4 linked regions of the Homo sapiens genome follow. The protein of the gene in region 2 purifies or fractionates together with the protein of the main gene of each other region. This does not show direct contact. Each region holds a gene or a part of one and is shown on either strand. Other genes may lie near its edges.

Region 1 (4,488 bases), on a different chromosome or scaffold from region 2:
ACTGAAACCTCCGCCTCCTGGGTCCCAGTTCAAGCAATTCTCCTGTCTCAGCCTCCCAAGTAACTGGGATTACAGGCACGTGCCACCATGCCCAGCTAATTTTTGTATTTTTAGTAGAGACAGGGTTTCACCATGTTGGCCAGGCTGGTCTTGAACTCCTCGTGATCCATCTGCCTTGGCCTCCCAAAGTGCTGGGATTACAGGCGTGAGCCACCGTGCCCGGCCAGCAAACTTTTTCTATGAAGGATTAGATAGTTCTGTTTGAGGGGGCCATATGATCTTTGTCCCAACTACCCACAGTTCTGCCATCACAGTGAAAGTAGCCATAGACATATGCAATGAATGGGCACTGCTGTGTTCCAATAAAACTACAAAACAGGTGGGCAGGCCAGATTTGGCCTAGGACTGCCAACCCCCAGACTTAGGCCATCGTACGTGACCTTGCAAGAGCTTGGTGAAGCAAGATTAAAACAAGTGAAGCAGCCAGGACTCACCATTTGCCCGAGGTTATCCAAGCAATTCGCATTGAGTCAGAATTAATGTCAGGTCTCCCCACTCCCAATCCTGTGTCCCACTTTACGTATCAGCACAGAGGCATAGAGAAGATCAAAGCCCGGAAACCCTAGATGTGTGACTTGGTAGAAAGAGTAACAGATTGATTGTTGAGAAATCTGAGTATAGTCCAGACTCTTCTACCAATATTGCTATGTGACCTTCAGTGGTCAATTGTCTCCATTTGAGGGCCCAATCTCCTCATCCATAAAACAAAAGAGGTATGCCTAGCTCTAGGTGACGCCTTAGGCCAAGGAGCTGTGACACTGTCTGGCTCTGCTTGGTGATTTGCCCTGCCCCACCCAACACTCACTTGACAGCAGTGGTGAGGCGCAGGGGCCTGACGCCGGGCGTGGCAAAGCGCAGAGTGTTCATGTAAGCCACATGCTGCAGGGCATGGTTGAAGGTCTCCACATCATCCCCCTCCAGGGTGAGCAGGGACTGTGAGGGGTTCACGTGGACCTGGGCCCCAGACACAGATACAGCTGAGAGCAGGGCCAGGAGGTGGCAGAGGAAGGGAGCAGAGGTAGAGGGGTAGGGCAAGGGGGTGGGGCAAGGGGCATGCTGGGAAGAACAGGGCTAGAGGATGGGGCAATACCTTCATGCCTTTGCCCAGGCTCTCGAAATCCCTATAGTCCAGCCCCTCCCGACATGCATAGAGGCACTCGATGACCTCGCGGCTCTCCAGGCGACCTGAGCGCACGCTGAAACCAGCCAGGTAGCCATGGAAGTAGTGGTGGATCGACAAAGGGTCTCCTAGGGTAGGAACACAGGAGCAGGACGGGAGGTGAGAAGAGAGGAGGATGGAAAAGGACGAAGGCTGAGAGAAAGGGAAAGGAGAGAAAGAGCAGAAGAGTTGAGAAAGAAAAAAAGGAGAAATGTGGAAACCAAAAAAAAAAAAAAAAAGGAAAAAAGAGAGATGAGAGGTGAGGGAGAAGTGAAGGTAAGGGGGGAGGCTAGAGAAGGGAGAAAATGAGACAAAAGAAGACAGAATAAAGCCAGGGGAGAAGAAGAAGGGTGAAAAGTAGAAGCAACAAAGATGAGAGGGAGGAAGAGAAGGAAACAGGACCAACAGGAGGAAAGAGTCAAAACAAGGAGGGAGGGGGAGGCGGCAGGAGAGAACGTCTTTCCAGTGACATGCAGGGAGACCAGGATGGATGTGAGCGAGCTTCACAGATGCCCAGACCTTCCCCTTCTGCGTGTCTGACTCCTGACTCCTGCCACCTCCCTTCTACCATGTGGAAAGCCACCAAGAGAGCCCCATTCTTCATTCTGTGGGCAGGACAGGATACCCAGAACCCAGCCAAGCTGCCTCTAGCCTTACCACTCCAGGAGCCCCTGCCCTGCTGTATTTCTTGGAGGCTCTGCCCCCTGGTGGCCTAGGAGGCTGTCACAGGCTGGATAGGATTTGGGGTGGAAAAGGGATCTCAGAACAGAAAGTGAAGATGAGAACTCTCTGGTCTCCAGTTCTTACACACGGAGTACCTTGGGTGGTGTCTGTACTGTTGTCTCCCTTTTCCTTCTCTTTGTTCTTCTCCTCTGGGGATAAAAAAAAAAAAAAAACAGTGCTGGTGAGCTCAGGGATGTGGAGAGATTGACAGAGAGGAATGAGATGTCTTCCTCTCATCCCCATGAGTGCTCTCATGCCCACATGGGATTCTGACCCTGCCCATGTATAACTTGCAACCTCTCAGCTCAGCCCCAACCCTTCTTTTGTCATGTTCCAACCTCTCCAGCCTCTATTATAGACAAACCCCCAAATACGATATGCTGCTGAGGAAACACGTGGGCTCTGGTAAGACAGACAGGCACATGTGCACACACACACTCCCAAGAGGAGAAAAATTTTTTCAATGGCTTAAAAGTTGGAAGACCGAGGACACTCTAAGGGGTTACTCTCCTTGAGCAGGGGAATGGGCTATGGAAGTCATCATCACTTTGATGGAAAAAAGTGGAAACTGGCTGGAGTTACAGAGAGAGAGTCTGGGGATGCGTGAGAAGTTAATTCCTCCAAGTCAGAGGTGATGACCCATTGGATTAGTGGGAGATACGGGAGGGAGGCTGTGGTCCCTTCCCATGGAGATCTTCAGAGTCACCCTGCACAGCTGCAGAGAGATGCAGGAGGCGGCCTCAGCTGCTGGGTCAGACTGCCCTTGCTCCTCACCAGCCTACCTCCCTTCCCAAATCCTGAACCACTGGAGTCTTCACTGAGAAGCTTACCAGTCCAGCAGGCCCCAATCATGAGAGCAGGCTCCCTTCGGGGTGGGTGGATGAGGCCATTGTCATGGATGAGGGCAGGGTCGAAGGAGATGCCGTCGGTATAGAGTGTGACTGTGGGGAACTCGAGGTTCAGAGCGTAGTGGTGCCACTCATCATCACAGACCTGGGAGAGTAGGGTAGGGGCAAGAGCCTCTCAGGTAATTCGTCTTCAGAGAGCTAACCCTAGGCACTGCCCCATCTCCTGGGAGACAGGGGACAGTCCCTTTATTCCCAGTTCTACCAACAGGGCTTACTAGTGCTTTGCTGCCTATCCAGCTCGAGGAATAACATCCTTGTCCAAAATCTATCAGGCAACCAACCTAGTAGCAAAGATTCCACTCTTCAGGTAAATCGTTAAAGCTATAAATATTCCTAAGAGGAGTAACACACTTTCATGAATAAATTCCCTGCCCCCCGAACTTATGTATTACATATGTGTGTAAGGCACTGGAAACTCTAGAGATGGGGTTTCCTTCTGTCCCCCAGGCTGGAGTGCAGTGGTGCAATCATAGCCCACTGAAGCCTCAAACCCCTCGGCTCAAGCAATCCTCCCACTTCAGCCTCTGGGGTAGCTGGGACTACAGGTATGTGCCACCATGTCCAGCTAATTTTTTTATTTTTTAGAGATGAGCTATCACTATGTTGCCTAGGCTGGTCTCCAACTCCTGGCCTCCAGTGATCCTCTCAGCCTCCCAAGTAGCTGGGATCACAGGTTATCTCTAGGATAGCTTCTAACCCAACATTAAGCACTAAAATAAATATTGCTTCCCTTTGCAGTCTCTCCTAGGGCCAGCCAAGATGGAATGGGGGATGGTCAGAGGAAAAAGGGGCAGAGAGTACTCTGCCTCATCCAGTTCCAAATGTTGGGGTCCCTCAAGGCTCAGACCTAGGCCCTCTTCTCTTTCCTCTCTACACTCTTTTCCTAGAAGTCACCTCATCTGTTGCCATGGGTTTGGGTACCATAGTTATACACTGGTAACTCCAAAATCCACATCTCCAGCCCATAACTCTCCTCTGAATGCCAGATTCTCCACTTGGATGCCCACAAGTATCTCACATTTAACACGTGTAAGGTGCAAGTCCATGCCCTTTCCCAACTCCCTCAGTTTCTCCCCAGGCAGTATAAATGCTCCATCATCCATCTAGCTGCTCAAGTGGCTGACGTAGGAGACAACTTTGATCTTCCCTTTCCCTCAGCCTCCACATCCAGTCCATTAGCAGGTGCTGTTGATCCCAGGTCCAAACAGAGCTACAAGCTGCAGGTTTCTGTGCAGGTCTCTCCGTCTCCATTGCCACACATCAGTCATGTCTCCAACCCCTTTCATGAAGACTGTTGCAACAGTCCTGTTTACTGTCACCATTAGATACCTTCAATACAACCATCCCACAGTTGCCAAGGGGATCTTGTTAAAATGTAAATCTGGCCAGGCGCAGTGGCTCACGCCTGTAATCCTAGCTCTTTAGGAGGCCAAGGTGGGTGGATCACGTCAAGAGATCAAGACCATCCTGGCCAACATGGTGAAACCCCATCTCTACTAAAAATACAAAAATTAGCTGGGCGTGGTGGCACACGCCTGTAGTCCCAACTACTAGGGAAGCTGAGGCAGGAGAATCTCTTGAACCCGGGAGGCCGAGGTTGCAGTGAGCCAAGATCGCACCACTGCACTCCAGCCTAGT
Region 2 (5,159 bases):
TAAAATGAACAGTTTTAAAACTTATTTATACAAAAAATACAATCATCTAGCTTATATACATCTTCATTTTAGTATACAAACAATTTAGCTCATGCAAAAGATTCTATTAACTTAAAGTCATAAAATGTACTTACTTTTACATATAATTAAATGATGCAATTAACCAGTAGTAACCACTGAGTTTAAAAGTGTATTTTTCGGCCGGGCGCAGTGGCTCATGCCAGTAATCCCAGCACTTTGGGAGGCCGAGGCGGGTGGATCACGAGGTCAGGAGATCAAGACCATCCTGGCTAACACGGTGAAACCCCGTCTCTACTAAAAATACAAAAAAATTAGCCAGGCATGGTGGTGGGCGCCTGTAGTCCCAGCTACTCGGGAGGCTGAGGCAGGAGAATGGTGTGAATCCGGGAGGCGGAGGTTGCAGTGAGCCGAGATTGCACCACTGCACTCCAGCCTGGGCCACAGAGCTAGACTCCGTCTCAAAAAAATAAAGTGTGTTTTTCACCGGACACGGTGGGTTTGTGCCTGTAATCCCAGCACTTTGGGAGGCAGAGGCAGGAGGATCGCTTAAGGCCAGAAGTTAGAGGACAGCCTGGGAAACATAGCAAGATCCCTATCTCTACAAAATAAAAAAAAAATTAGCTGGGCATAGGGGCGCGAGCCTGTAGTCCTAGCCACTCAGAGGCTGGGGTAGGAGGATCACTTAAGCCCAGAAGTTCGAGGATGTGGTGAGCTATGATCGCCCACTGCACTCCAGCCTGGCTGACAGAGTGACACTTTGCCTCTAAAAAACAAAATTAACAAGGTGTTTGTCTCATGACTTACAGCACTTACAGATGCTTGATGAAGTCCTGGGGCACCTTCCTCCATGTGCTCTGCCCACTCGGGTCTGCTGGCCTTGACCTGGTCCTTGCAGCCCACAGGACCCATTGCTGGGAGGCCCCCCAGGGTAGCCCGGTCCTCCAATTTCCTATTGCTTTATTTAACAGCCTCTTTAATAAACCTCACACGTAAAGATGTAAGAAATTAAATCACCATTAAAGACTATTTCAGCCTTGGAGGAAGAATACTATTTTTAGAAATGAGTTTTTATATTAAAATCACAGAACAATTTGCAACACTGGGTTGCAAAGTGTCTTCTTTAGTGCTGATAAAAGGGGCTCAGTCCCTATTCTGGTAGTTAGAAAAGCAGATTTAGAAGGTGCTAGAAAATACCCCAAATCACTCCTTCCTTGGGTTCCGTTTGGATTCAGCAGGCTCCTCTGGCGATGGGCGGGCGCCGCAGTTGCGCCTGTGCTCCTAAGGGCTCGCCTTAAATACCTGTGGGTATCTCCTCATCATATCGGTGCCATTCATGTTTCTCAGAGATCTAACTGCCAAAGGACTTAAACTCTCTAAGCCTCCCTTTCTCTCTTTTCACGTGGGGGATAATAATAGTGCCTACCCTAGAGGGTCCTATAGTAAATGGGGGCAGTGCCCCTCCCCCACTTGCTGGGCACAGAGAAGAGGCTCCATCTGCAGAGTAAGGGGGCCTCTCTTAAAGCAGGGGTGACGTGCTTTCCCTTATCCTCGTGTTCCCCACTCAGGGCGGCTGGGACCCCAGGCTGTTGCCTGTGCCCCACACAGGAGCTCCCTCTCCCACAGGGCCCCTCACCATCTCCCAGTACAAGTAGTATGCAGTAGAAAATCTCCACCTTCCTGTGAAAGCTTTTTGTTCATGTTGGGATTTTTTTTTTTTTCCAGTGAGAAAATGGCTCGTCACCTTGGATACCAATGTTTTACATCAGGGATTGGTCACTCCTGCTGCTGTCAGCACTGTAAACACTGCTGGGGGGAGTCAGCCCAAGTCCCCACCCCCCAGCCAGGTCTCATAGAGGGAATTGTTCTTCAGGCTCGGAGGGGCCTGCCTGTCACTGCGCCCCCGACCCTAGCTCAGGGACTGCAGAACTCAAGATACCATCCCGTTTCTCCTGGCTGAGGAAGGGAAGGGAACATCCACATCTTCTGTACTCGTCCATTCTGTGTCCCCGGGGCCTGGAGTAAAGACACCTTCAAATGCAGAGACTCTTCAGATTCAGCTTTCCTGGAAACTGATCTTCAATGCACTAAGAGAAGGAGACTCTCAAACCAAAAATGACCTGGAGGCACCATGTCAGGTAAGGACAGAGGTCATGAGATCTTAGAGCCAAGAAGGGGTCTTAAGAGCCTCAGAATAAATCGTAGTGCATGAGCCACTGTTCATTAAAGGAGGTGTACACTTTCTGTCTCAAAATCTTTCTAAGCCATAGCAAAATTAACAAAAACCTACAAGTTACAAAATGATTGCCTTATTCATTATAATTATTTTACATAATTTTATATTTATATATAATGATGGCATTGTATTTTTATGTGTATGTGAATTTCTGCTTATACTTCTAAAGATACTTTCAACTTCAATGATTTTCTTTAAATATTCTAGGCTTCTGTTTACGGTCAGTTTGGCATTACAGATCATCAATTTGGGAAACAGTAAGAAACATTTTATTCATAATTTCAGTTTTAATTGCATAAAATATTTGTTTCTCAATCATTATCAGTCTCACATTTTCAATATTTTTTAAAGGCTATCAAAGAGAGAAACATAACGGCGGTAGAGAGGAAGTCACCAAGGTTGCCACTCAGAAGCACCGACAGTCACCGCTCAACTGGACCTCCAGTCATTTCGGAGAGGTGACTGGGAGCGCCGAGGGCTGGGGGCCGGAGGAGCCGCTCCCCTACTCCCGGGCTTTCGGAGAGGGTAAGTTGCAGCGCTGCCCACAAAATCCGGGGCGTCATCTCAGTCTGCGGACTCAGAGTTTAGGACCTGAGAATATGTAGGATAAATTCAGGATAAAATCCAAGGAGAGCATTTTGTTATCTTCAAATGATGATGCACTTACAAAGCTATAAAGCTAGAGACAGTTCCTAGTGAGGTGTTAAAAAGCTTTACTCTTTCATTGGTAAAACGTTGTATTTGCTCTTCAATGGTTATTTTGCTGCAGATCTAGAGAACTGTGATTTAAATGTGTTGAAAATAAATATCCCAAGCCAAGATAACAGCGGACTCTTGCTTGGCTTCTCCCAGACACCGCGTCCCCAGGAGGCCCCTCGCCGGTGGGTTTGGCGTCATCACACCCGTGGGTGGTCCCGCCCAGGAGGCCTGTGCTTAATCACTGTCAGGTGAAGCCACAGCCAGAGGTTAACATGTGAAAGGAAGGGAGAGAGCAAGCCCGGCTTGCAGGCCGCACCCCTGATAGTTTGTTTCACATCCCTAACAAGCAGGGTTTACCTGAGCAAACACACTTGGCTGGAGGCTGATTTTACTGCCTCCCCTGGGCGGCCACGTTCGGCCCCGTCCCTGCGGGGAGGGCCACGGGCCGCGGGGGGCGCGGGGCTGACGCCCGGGTGACCCCGCAGGTGCGTCCGCGCGGCCGCGCTGCTGCAGGAACGGCGGTACCTGCGTGCTGGGCAGCTTCTGCGTGTGCCCGGCCCACTTCACCGGCCGCTACTGCGAGCATGACCAGAGGCGCAGGTGGGCACAGGGGTGCGCGGGGTGGGGACGGGGGTGGGCGCCGGGTGAGGGACCTGCGGGTCTGGGGGCGCGGGAGTAGGCGTCAGGAGAGGGGCGCGCGGGTGCGGGGGCGCGGGAGTGGGCGCCGGGCGATGGGCGCGCGGGTTGGGGGGCGCGGGAGTTGGCGCCGGGGGAGGGATGCGCGGGTGGGGGAGCGGCGCAGGAGTGGGCGCCGGGCGAGGGGCGCGCGGGCCACCGCATTGATGCAGGTCCCCGTCTTCTCAGTGAATGCGGCGCCCTGGAGCACGGAGCCTGGACCCTCCGCGCCTGCCACCTCTGCAGGTGCATCTTCGGGGCCCTGCACTGCCTCCCCCTCCAGACGCCTGACCGCTGTGGTAAGAGGCCCTGTGATTCGGTCCCCAGCTCACCCCCGCACGCGGTTGCGCCTTCATTGCGGCTCACCCTCCATACCGATCCACAGTGCATCTTCCAGTGCCAGGCCACATAGCATTTAGCAAAGTAGATCGATTCATCATTGAAGAAAGTCGCATTCATTGGGAATCATATAGTGAATTAAATTTTGTTTTGAAGTTCTCATATCCAGATTGCTGAGTTTAAAAATGATTTCCAAACCATGTCCTCACATGTCCGTTTCAGTGAGCAGAATTTCAGGAGATGACCAGCTGGTAATCGGAGAGGAAGCTGGGAGACAAGTTAGCTGCGTAAATCTCAGGTGGTTTCCCTGCACTAGGCCAGCACCATCTGCTCAGCTGTGGGACCAGCAGGGACACAGGCAGGAGCCGCATTTCCCTCTGGAATCCTGTGCCTTCTCTCCTCTCCTCTTTGGTGATCACTGGCTGGGGCTAGCAATGGAGGGCACAGCTAGTGAAGGCCCAGCCTCTTGGCCCCAGCCCGAGCTCTGCCCTCTCCCAGGCCCGGGTGGGCTGGTGGTGCAGTGTCCAGAGGCACACCTGATGAAGCCAAGGCCCCTGATCCACTCTCCTGCCCCCTCCCTCCACTTCAGTCAGCCCTGGGCACCTCCATCTGTCAAAGAGCACAGCCCCGCAACCCCACTTCCCACCTGTCGCTCTCAGGCCGTCCTGCTAGGGCTGCATGGAGGGCAGCACCAGTGGCCCAAAGATCTTCAACCCGGCTCCCCCAGCCTCCCTCTTGCTCTTGGAGGCCCACAATGGAGGAGTACACAATGCATGCTTAGCTCTCCTTCACCTTCCTGTCCTCTCTTCTCTCCCTGGTAGGACCAGCAGTCAAGGGACACTCTTAATAGAGGCACAGCCCCCAACCCCACTTCCCACCCTGCTCCCTTCTCCTCAGCTAGCTCTGCATGGTGCCAGCAGGGAAGAGCACTCCCCGCCTGCCGTGCAGACCACATTTTCCCAAAGCACCCCCTCTTCTATGTGTGCTCCTTTTGCTGGGCCTCTGCCTCTGAAGTCACCAGCTGCTCCTCTATGCCCTAGAGACAGGAGGACACAGATTTCATGGACAGGCATCAGAATCACAGGGGGTGCTTGTGTGGTCCTCACAGATGAAGTCAGTTCCCACCTGCCATTAGGCCGCCCCAGCAGGAATGTGGGGAAGGGACTAGCTGTCATGACTTCCAGGATATCTG
Region 3 (4,488 bases), on a different chromosome or scaffold from region 2:
AGAAGGGGTGTTATCACATATCTTTTGAAAGAAGTTTGAGGTTGGGCACGGTGGCTCACACCTGTAATCCCAGCACTTTGGGAGGCCGAGACGGGTAGATCACCTGAGGTCAGGAGTTTGAAATCAGCCTGGTCAACATGGTGAAACCCTGTCTCTACTAAAAAATACACACAAAATAATAGCCGGGCATGGTGGCAGGTGCCTATAGTCCCAGATACTCAGGAGGCTGAGGTGGAGAATCACTTGAACCTGGGAGGTGGAGGTTGCAGTGAGCTGAGATCGCGCCACTGCACTCCAGCCTGGGCAACAGAGTGAGACTCTGCCTCAAAAAAAAGAAAAAAGTTTAAAGCCATATGTTCCCCCCTTTTTTTTTTTTTTTTGATCCACCTGCCTCGGCCTCCCAAAGTGCTGGGATTACAGGTGTGAGCCACTACACCTGGCCTCCATTTGTTCCCTTTTTATGGTTACTTCTGTTAAAAATCTGGCCACTGATAAACCTCTAACTCTACTATTTCTTCCACTGGAAATACATGTGCAATATGCTGTTTGCTGTCTCTCAAATATGTAAAAAATGTGATTCATCAAGCACCTTAAACATAACAGCTATTCAATAGAAGCTGCACAATTAACTATAAAGTTGACAGAGTAAAACTCTCCCTTGGAAACTAGAAGTCACTGATTTAAAAAACAGAAGGGAAGTAAAGATGAACGGAAAGTTAGTATACCGACGGTCATACTTTATTATCCATAGAAACAACAGATAGATAACAAACACGAAGTCCCTACTGACTTACATGGGAGCCTCTATCTGTTCTTCTGAGTGAGTTTCATGACAAACAATGGAACCAAACACTTTCGAGAAATGAGGCTAGACCATGGGAAATGCAACACAAATGTGGCCTCTGCCCACTTGCAACACAGGAAATAAAACAAGTCTAGGGAGAAAGTAAACTATGATAAAGAAAAAGTGGGGATAAAAGGTCCCTCTGCTTTAGACAAACCAAATCAGAAATAGTGTTCCTTTTCCCAAATTTCATGGGGTTTTCCTCAATTCACTCTTACCCCATAGAATCTTCCATCCACTCTCTTCTAGCCTTCCTGCCTTCACCCCCAAATGCTTTCCTTGTCTCTAGGGAACCAAGGCCCATCCCTGCCGATACAACATTTACATGAACCTGAGCACTGACAAGACATTCCTTGCCCCCAATTCCCCAAGCCCACAGGTGTATCCTAGCTACTCCAATCTTCCATGATGAGTCTAAAAGATCACCCCCTTGCATAGCCCTCTAGGCTATCTCCAGCCTATCCCTTCAATGCACGGCTTGTACACACACCGTGTGGAGTTATCTGGCACCTTCAGGTTCACTTTTAGCCACCCTGGGCCCCCGGAATATGGTGACAGATGGGACAGCTGATACCCAGCACTATGGCTGAATATATACATAGTAGGAGCTCAACAAACTTTTGGAATGAAGGTGTTCCCTAACTCCAAGCTTTCTTGGACCCCTTCCTCCCATGCTCTGTAAGATCTTCAAGACCCACCTCTAATTCCTGTAGGTTTCTCAGGCCTCTCACGCCCTAGCCTCCATCTCTAGCCCTATAGACACTCAAGCAATCTTACACTACTTACCAGCTCTCAACTTCATCTCCTCTGTCTTTTTGCTCAATCACTGTGATGCTAATAGAGACACAGACCCATTTCTGGACCTCAGTCCTCATCCTTACCATTATCCATCAGACTATGTCACCGGACAAAGATCTCATGCTCATATCCTAGAGGACCACTCTCCATCCACCCATGTGGCTCTCCCTGTACTTACCTTACTGAAGGAGAAGACTGGGATGGCAGGCTCCATCCATTTAGGAACCTGAGGATAATCTCGTACATTGATCACCATCTCCATGTCAGGGAGACGCCCGATCACTTCCAAAATAAAGTGCTCAACACCACTACACCTGTCAACCAGACATACCATAAATTCAGCAGAGTAGTGCCTGCAGGCTCTAGGACAAGGCGAGGTCCCATTCACATTTTAAAGTAAGACAAGCCAGTGTTCCAGTGTTCCATATCATCAGTCTACTGCAAAGTCTCCTGAAAACAATGCTTCTAAAGGGGCTATTCTGCTTTTTTGTATTGTGCAAGTTCACTCATAGCTAAGCTGCTCCAGCTTACAATACTTAATAAAATTTTCCAAATAAATCGTCATAGCTTTGAAGGGAGTATTATTGCTACTTCTACCACTTTATTCATTCCAGTTCTTTTCTTTATTTCCCTTATATGGAATAGTTTAATTAGTAGACAAGATACAAACTCTCGTAATAGCTGAAATAGCTAATTTTCCACCTGTGTTCCTTTGGCTTTGCTCCTCACAAAGACACCATTTTTATTTCCATTATAATTAAGTCTCCTAGTTTATGAGAACAGATAGAAAACCTTTCATTACCTTCAACCTGAATAAAGAACATTATCAAAATCAGTTCTGCAAGCCAGAAAAAGTGTTATATACATAATCATAAATAGTGTAACACAGCTTTCTGACTAGATTCCCTGGGAAATCAGGGATTTCTTGAAAGAAAAAGAAGATACACTGACAGTTTAGCTTGTTTCTGCCTCATCCTCTGAGGTCCTGACCAGCACTATGCTAGGGGCAATATTCAAAGGCTTGATCAAAATTTTCTGGCAGCATGGAAATAACTGATTTAAAATATTGTTTTACTACTTGGGAGACTTAGGCAGAAGGGTTATTTGAGCCCAAGAGTTCTAGACCAGCAACATAGTGACACAGTAGGCAATGTAGTGAGCTCCTCTAGCCAAAAAAAAAAAAAGTGTTTTTTATATAGGGAGATAACTGCAAAAAATATCAACAGTTCACAAACATAGGAAAAGATGCTCAACTGTATTAATAATAAAGAAATGTCAATGAAACTAGATACCAATTTTACCAATCAGATTGGCAAAGATCAAAAAGTCCAATAGTGCAGTGTTGGTAAGGGTGTGAGATCTATTCACAGCATATGATATATCGGTTGTGGAAGTGTTTAGCCTCTTTGTAGGACAATTAGATTCTATTTACCAAGATTTCTCTTTTTTTAAGGTTTTTTTTATTTGAGGCAGGGTCTCTCGCTCTGCCACTCAGGCTGAAGAGTGCAGTGGCATGATCATGGCTCACTGTGGCCTCAAAAATCCTAGGCTCAAGCAATCTTCTCACCTCAGCCTCCTGAGTAGCTGGGACTACAGGTGTGTGCCAACACACCTGGCAACTCTGTATGTGTTTGTGTGTGTGTGTGTGTGTGTGTGTGTGTGTGTGTGTGTGGAGAGACAGTCTTGGTATGTTGTCCAGACTGATCTTGAACTCTTGGGCTCAAGTGATCCTCCCACCTCAGCCTCCCAAAGTGCTGGGATTACAGGTGAGAGCCACTGTGCCCAGCCTGTTTATCAAGATTTTTTTTTTTTTTTGAGATGGAGCCTTGCTCTGTGGCCCAGGCTGGAGTGCAATGGCGCAATCTCAGCTGACTGCAACCTCCACCTCGGGTTTCAAGTGATTCTCCTGCCTCAGCCTCCCGAGTAGCTAGGATTACAGGCACAGGCCACCATGCCCAGCTAATTTTTTTATTTTTAGTAGAGATAGGTTCTCACCATGTTGGCCAGGCTGGTCTTGAACTCCTGACCTCAGATGATCTGCCTGTCTCAGCCATCCAAAGTGCTGGGATAACAGGCGTGAGCCACCTCACCCAGCCTATTTATCAAGATTTTAAAATGACATTAATTGCCCTAGTTATTATACTTTTAGGAATTTAGCCTACATATATATTTACATGAGTGTTCACAGTAACAAGGATGTTCACTGCAGCATTGCTTGCGTTATCCAAAAAGCAAAGTGATGTGGTAAGGGATAATCTAAATGTCCACTGATAGAGGGCTGAATAAAGAAATCCATATAATAAGTTATTATGCAGCCATGAAAAAGTGAGGCATTCTCTATGGACTCTTATGGAACAATCTCAAAATCTACTGTTATATGGAAAAGAAATCTAAGTGCAGAACAGAAGACAGCATGTTTTATTTTGTTGATGAGTCTAGATGCTTGTAAATGTACAGACTATTTCTAGAAGGATATACAAGACACAGAATTCTAATTGTCTTTTGAAAAGAGGTCTCAGGGACTAGCAGTCTGAGGGTCTGAGGTGGAAGAGAAACTTCCTTTTCACTGAATGTCTTTTGGAGGTATCCAAATATTTTAGCATGGTAAAATATTTGGATATTTTACATATCCAAAGTGTATGTAATACTCTTTGACACTAAAAGAAAAAAAAAACTAGTTAAAAAATGTAAAAAAATATTGCAGTACAATTTATACATTACAGCTAAAATGCTCGTATTTCTTTCACATTTGGCTTTTAATTTAGTTTAATTTAATTTTTATTTTTTGAGATGGAGTTTCTTTCTTGTTGACCAGGCTGGAGTGTAATGGCGTGGTCTTAGCTCAC
Region 4 (4,488 bases), on a different chromosome or scaffold from region 2:
TGTTCAGACACCCAAGATCAGCCAAATTGGCTCACCAGAAACATGGCGAGCCCTACTCCCTCTGCTGGGCCTCACCTGTAGAGCTGCAGAGACAGGAGAGCCAGGTAGCACCAATGGGGAGTTGCAGCTACTGTGCACCCAGGCTGGGCTGACAGGTAGTGAACAAAGTGAAGGCCACAGGGACCGCCAACACCAAGGGGAGGGCGGGTTTGTGTGCGCTGGGAGCAGGAGGGAAGAGATCTGCTAGCTGTCATTCTACTCTAGTCATTTCCTTTCCTTCGAGGGGACTTGTCCCCATTTCCAGAAGCTACCTCAGGAGTGCCTGGGCACTCTGGGGCCGGTTGTTGAGGCAATGTGGTGTGGCAGCAAGGGCTAGGGTGGGGCTCCCCAGGCCCTCCCTTAGCTGTGTGGTTCTTTCCCATCTTGGGGGCTCACTTTCCCCATCTGTTAAAATGAAGGCTTTGGGCTAGATATTTTCTATATTTCCAGCTCTGAAATCCCAGGCCGAGGGAGTACGAGCACATCTAGGGTCTCCTGGAGGCCCCCTGTGCTCAGTTCCCTGGATGAAGAGCAAATGAGGCCCTAAGGCAGGAGCTCACTTCTGTGGACTTCACCCTCTTGGAGTCAGAGGCAGGGCTGCCTGGGGACTGAATTCCTCTGTGCTCATAAGCAGCAAAGCCCATTGCTCCCCTCTGACCACACTTCTCCATCATGAGTGGGCCAGAGAGACGTGAGCAAAGGGCGACCCCGTAGTCACCAGCTTCAGCAGGCAGCGGCAGGGAGGGCTGAATCCCTGAGCCATTCCAGAGGCTGCCTCATCTCCCCCCAGCAAAATGCCCCCAGCCTTCATTCCTGTAAGCAAGAAGCCTTCCTGAGCCTCCCCTCTGAAATGGCACTGGCCTCCATTTTACCTCTCTGTGATTTCTCCACCTGGCATTGCAGTGCACATGGACCTGACTGCCTGCCCTACTGGACTGCAGACCCCTCAAGCTAGGCATTAGTTCTCACCTCTCCATCCCGTGTGCGCTGGGGCACCCAGCATCATGGATATCAGTGGATATCCATGAACTGTTGGGTTCCAGGTACCATGTGAAATGCAGCAGATTTCTGGAATCTCAGAACTAAAAGGGCCTTTGAGAGTCATCTAGTCCAAGTCCAAACCTGCCACTCAAAGTCTCCTGAAAGGTGGACACGGCCAGAGGCAGGGCTTGCCTCTTCCCCAAGGATAGCCAGTTCTACCCCAGCTCCTAATCCTGTGAGGTTGGCTCTTGCTTACAGGAGTAAAGATTTCCTTAAGGCCAAGGCTCTTTCTCCTACATTTACCACCCTCACTTGTCTGCTGAAGACCATGGGGATCTGTGAATGACCAGCCCTCCAGACTACCTCCTAGCTGGGTCAGGGCTCCTGCCAAAGTGGATCTTTGCTGTCAGCACAACCCAGGTCTCCTGATATGGTCCCCAAACCCCCACTGAAGAGGCACAGATAGGAGAGAAGCACCCAAGAGGCTGCAGGAAAGTGAATGTTTCCAGCATTGGCCAGCACCGCCCCAGGGGCTCCAGGTAGACACTTGAGTAGGGGCAGGTGGCAGCACCAGGGTCTCTGATAGCCTTCCCTTGGCCCATCAGGGCTGAAACACGGCCTTCCCAGGCAGCTGCTGGCAGGGGCTGGGGGACCCAGCCATCCCCCACTGGTCTGCTGCCAAGAGTCACCGTCATAGTCTACCACGAGGTGGCACCGGGCGGCAGCTGTCCTCACAACTTCTTCTTCTTCACCACAGGGATGGGCACAACTTGGAAGATTTTGGCTTTGTGATCCTCAGTGTCCAGTGTCACCCAGATGGGCCGGAAGCTGCCTTTGAAGCCAACGAATGCCATTTGCTCTGAAAAGCAATGATGAGTCTCCTGAGCAAAAGCCCTATGAGAGGACGGCTGCCCCACCCCGTTCCATGGCTCCCCATCGCCAGCCCCCCACGCCCACCAGGTACCGCCTAGCCACACTGCACTGTGGCCCCTTGGGAAGAGCTCTGTGCTCAGCTACTGATGGTGCCTGACATGTGTTTGTATGGGGCAGGCAGGGTCTCACCTGAGCCTCACTGCCACCTAGGCAGGGTGATGGCTTTGTTGTAGACAGGGGAGCCATGCACAGCAGGAAATGGGGCAAACTGTAAGGGAGGAGACCTCCTAGGAACCTGCCTACCTTTGAGCTGCCCCTAGGACAACCAGCAAGTCCCTGCCCCTCTCTGAAGCCCAGTGTTCCCATCCATCAAATGATGGCATTGATCTACAAGATCTCCTTCCCCACTCTATCACTCTGTGGCTCTAGAAAGAGTTCTGAGAGGTGAAGAAATTTGACCAAGAGTGTGGAGTAAATGGTGCACCCCAGATTAGAACTCTAAACCCCTGAAACCCACACAGCACTCTCCATCTTGCAGTTCACAGCTTGAGCATCCGAGGGGCATGGGAATCCACGTCTATACTCAGCCCATCTTGGCAGGCAACATGCATTTATCACCACCGGGAAAGTGCCATTCAACTTAGGTCACCTTACATACATCAGCTTTTGGCAACCGGGATCTTAATTTAAAAGACAGAGGCTCCAAAATGATTTCAGGACTGGGCTGGAAAGGATACTTCTCTTTTCCTTATGTCCTCCTTTGGCTGGTTTGAAGGGTTTGCATTGCTTCTGATTTTTCTCATTGCCCCATATGATGGGTTTCTGATTTTGATGTTTTCCATAGTGAGGATGGTGTATAACTAAGAAGCCCAGCTTTGAGTTAGGAAGATTAGGATCCAAGTCCTAACCTTAAGCAAGTGGCTTGGCTGTTAAATTCTTGGTGTCCTCATCTTAAATGGAAATAATAGTACCTGCTGCACAGGTTATTAATGAGTAAGTGAGATAATTATAACATGTTGTGCAAAGTGCAAGGCTGAACATTGAATAGCAACCACAATGATCATTATCATTATTGCCCGTGGAGCTTCTCTGCCGCCCATACAGCCTCTCTGAGGACTCTCCCTGCACCTAGTTTTTGTGATGATAATGGGTGTCATGCTGACATGTCCCTCCTGGATGGCTTCTTCCAGCACAGCCAGCAAGCCTGTGCTAGGCTTCACCACCGAAGCTGCCTGGCCTTGGACAAGCCATGTAGGTTCTCTGGGCTTTAGTTTTCTGGAACAAATAAGAGTTTTGCAAGCTGCAAAGGACTGTACAAACGCTAGGCATCAGCTAGAATGTTGAAGAAGATGCAGGACCCCTGGCCAGTCTGAATAGCAGGAATTGGGTAGGAGGGTGAGACTAAGCCACTTTTCTTATGATACTTTTGTTGAATAAAGGGCCACTTTCCAAGCAAATGAGTCAACAAATATAGCAATTTTCTTTCAGTGGCTGGTGGCAAGTTATAATAAATTTGCTGCAGTGCAGGGGTGGTAAACAGGTGGCATCTTGCCCATCCATTCCAGTAGACCACTAGTTGTGTGGGGGATTCTTAGGTTGTACCCACGTTTAGTACAAAGCATGTTCTCAACTCAGCAAAAGATGACAGCACCCTCCATGCCAGGCATTTGCCTTCTCTGGTTTTGGGGTCAGTTTAAACCCCAGTTCAAACCCTTACCTTTCAACTTGAGACCCCTGTCTGCCCCAAGCTTTTCCAGCACTCTGGTCCATGGGCCTCTGGAGACGTATCTTCCCTTTGATGCCATAAGCACTATGGAACTGTGTGAGAAGAAACCAATTAGACCAGAGGGAGAGAGCAAACTGGAGAAAGTGGGCATGGGGAGGGATGTTGGTTTGTGCATGGTGGGACTGGAGTTAGCAGTGCCCAGAGGCCTGTCCAGGGATTCGGGAAAGGGCAGCCTCTCCTGTGTTCTGAGCTGACGGGCTCTTTCCATGTGGTGACGAACATCCTGAGCTCCCTCCCACACATCTGGCCACAGTTGGTGCCCACAGCCTTCTCCAAGCCTGGACTTGGCTCACCGCGTTTACATGTCTCTCTCCAAACAGAGGAGAGGATGTAAGCAGAGCGTACCATGCCAGGGCTCGGCACACAGTAGGACTTCGATATGTATCTCTTCCCTTGAATGTTCTCAACCCTGGTTAGGTAAGACCAGATAGAAATGTGGTGATGGAGGAAGGAAGGAGAAAGGGAAGAGAAAGAGAGGAGGTGCGGGAAGGCGGAGGGGAGCATCTGTCAAATCATAAAACCATCCAGGAGCTCCTGAAGGTTCTAGATCCTGAAGGTTCTAGAGACCAGCTCCATTTGGCATCCCCTGGGATTTCATTAGAACCACAGAATTCCTCCATTGCAGACTTCCTGAATCAGAATCTGCATTTTTACAAGATCTGCAGGTGATCATGTATACATTAAAGCTCGAGAAGCCCCATGCTAGAAGATTTCTCTTGGAGCGCATCTTTCTTTTGCTGTCTTCTTTTGATGGACACAGGCTTAGTGTAGTCCAGAGCCAGCCTTCTCTGAGCTGCAGGAAGAGCATG

The links. Proteins that work in one complex are often made in the same cells at the same time.
Region 1: the proteins of CFC1 (region 2) and CLSTN3 purify together in Homo sapiens (affinity purification with mass spectrometry; one large-scale study listed by BioGRID and IntAct). This does not show direct contact.
Region 3: the proteins of CFC1 (region 2) and POGLUT1 purify together in Homo sapiens (affinity purification with mass spectrometry; one large-scale study listed by BioGRID and IntAct). This does not show direct contact.
Region 4: the proteins of CFC1 (region 2) and CEMIP purify together in Homo sapiens (affinity purification with mass spectrometry; one large-scale study listed by BioGRID and IntAct). This does not show direct contact.

The regions. Positions count from the first base shown.
Region 1 is NC_000012.12:7,139,689-7,144,176, reverse strand, and holds part of CLSTN3 (calsyntenin-3 precursor), read right to left. Parts: intron 2,936-4,488; coding exon 2,773-2,935; intron 2,092-2,772; coding exon 2,038-2,091; intron 1,309-2,037; coding exon 1,151-1,308; intron 1,015-1,150; coding exon 866-1,014; intron 1-865. UniProt on the Homo sapiens protein: Postsynaptic adhesion molecule that binds to presynaptic neurexins to mediate both excitatory and inhibitory synapse formation.
Region 2 is NC_000002.12:130,596,262-130,601,420, reverse strand, and holds the start of CFC1 (cryptic protein isoform 1 precursor), read left to right. Parts: upstream 1-1,845; 5' UTR 1,846-2,133; coding exon 2,134-2,156; intron 2,157-2,461; coding exon 2,462-2,511; intron 2,512-2,605; coding exon 2,606-2,779; intron 2,780-3,023; coding exon of another isoform or gene 3,024-3,205; exon of another isoform or gene 3,206-3,423; intron 3,424-3,438; coding exon 3,439-3,553; intron 3,554-3,817; coding exon 3,818-3,927; intron 3,928-5,159. UniProt on the Homo sapiens protein: NODAL coreceptor involved in the correct establishment of the left-right axis. May play a role in mesoderm and/or neural patterning during gastrulation.
Region 3 is NC_000003.12:119,474,781-119,479,268, reverse strand, and holds part of POGLUT1 (protein O-glucosyltransferase 1 precursor), read right to left. Parts: intron 1,957-4,488; coding exon 1,821-1,956; intron 936-1,820; exon of another isoform or gene 795-935; intron 93-794; exon of another isoform or gene 1-92. UniProt on the Homo sapiens protein: Dual specificity glycosyltransferase that catalyzes the transfer of glucose and xylose from UDP-glucose and UDP-xylose, respectively, to a serine residue found in the consensus sequence of C-X-S-X-P-C.
Region 4 is NC_000015.10:80,946,188-80,950,675, reverse strand, and holds part of CEMIP (cell migration-inducing and hyaluronan-binding protein precursor), read right to left. Parts: intron 4,388-4,488; exon of another isoform or gene 3,712-4,387; coding exon 3,611-3,711; exon of another isoform or gene 1,880-3,610; coding exon 1,752-1,879; 3' UTR 1-1,751. UniProt on the Homo sapiens protein: Mediates depolymerization of hyaluronic acid (HA) via the cell membrane-associated clathrin-coated pit endocytic pathway. Binds to hyaluronic acid.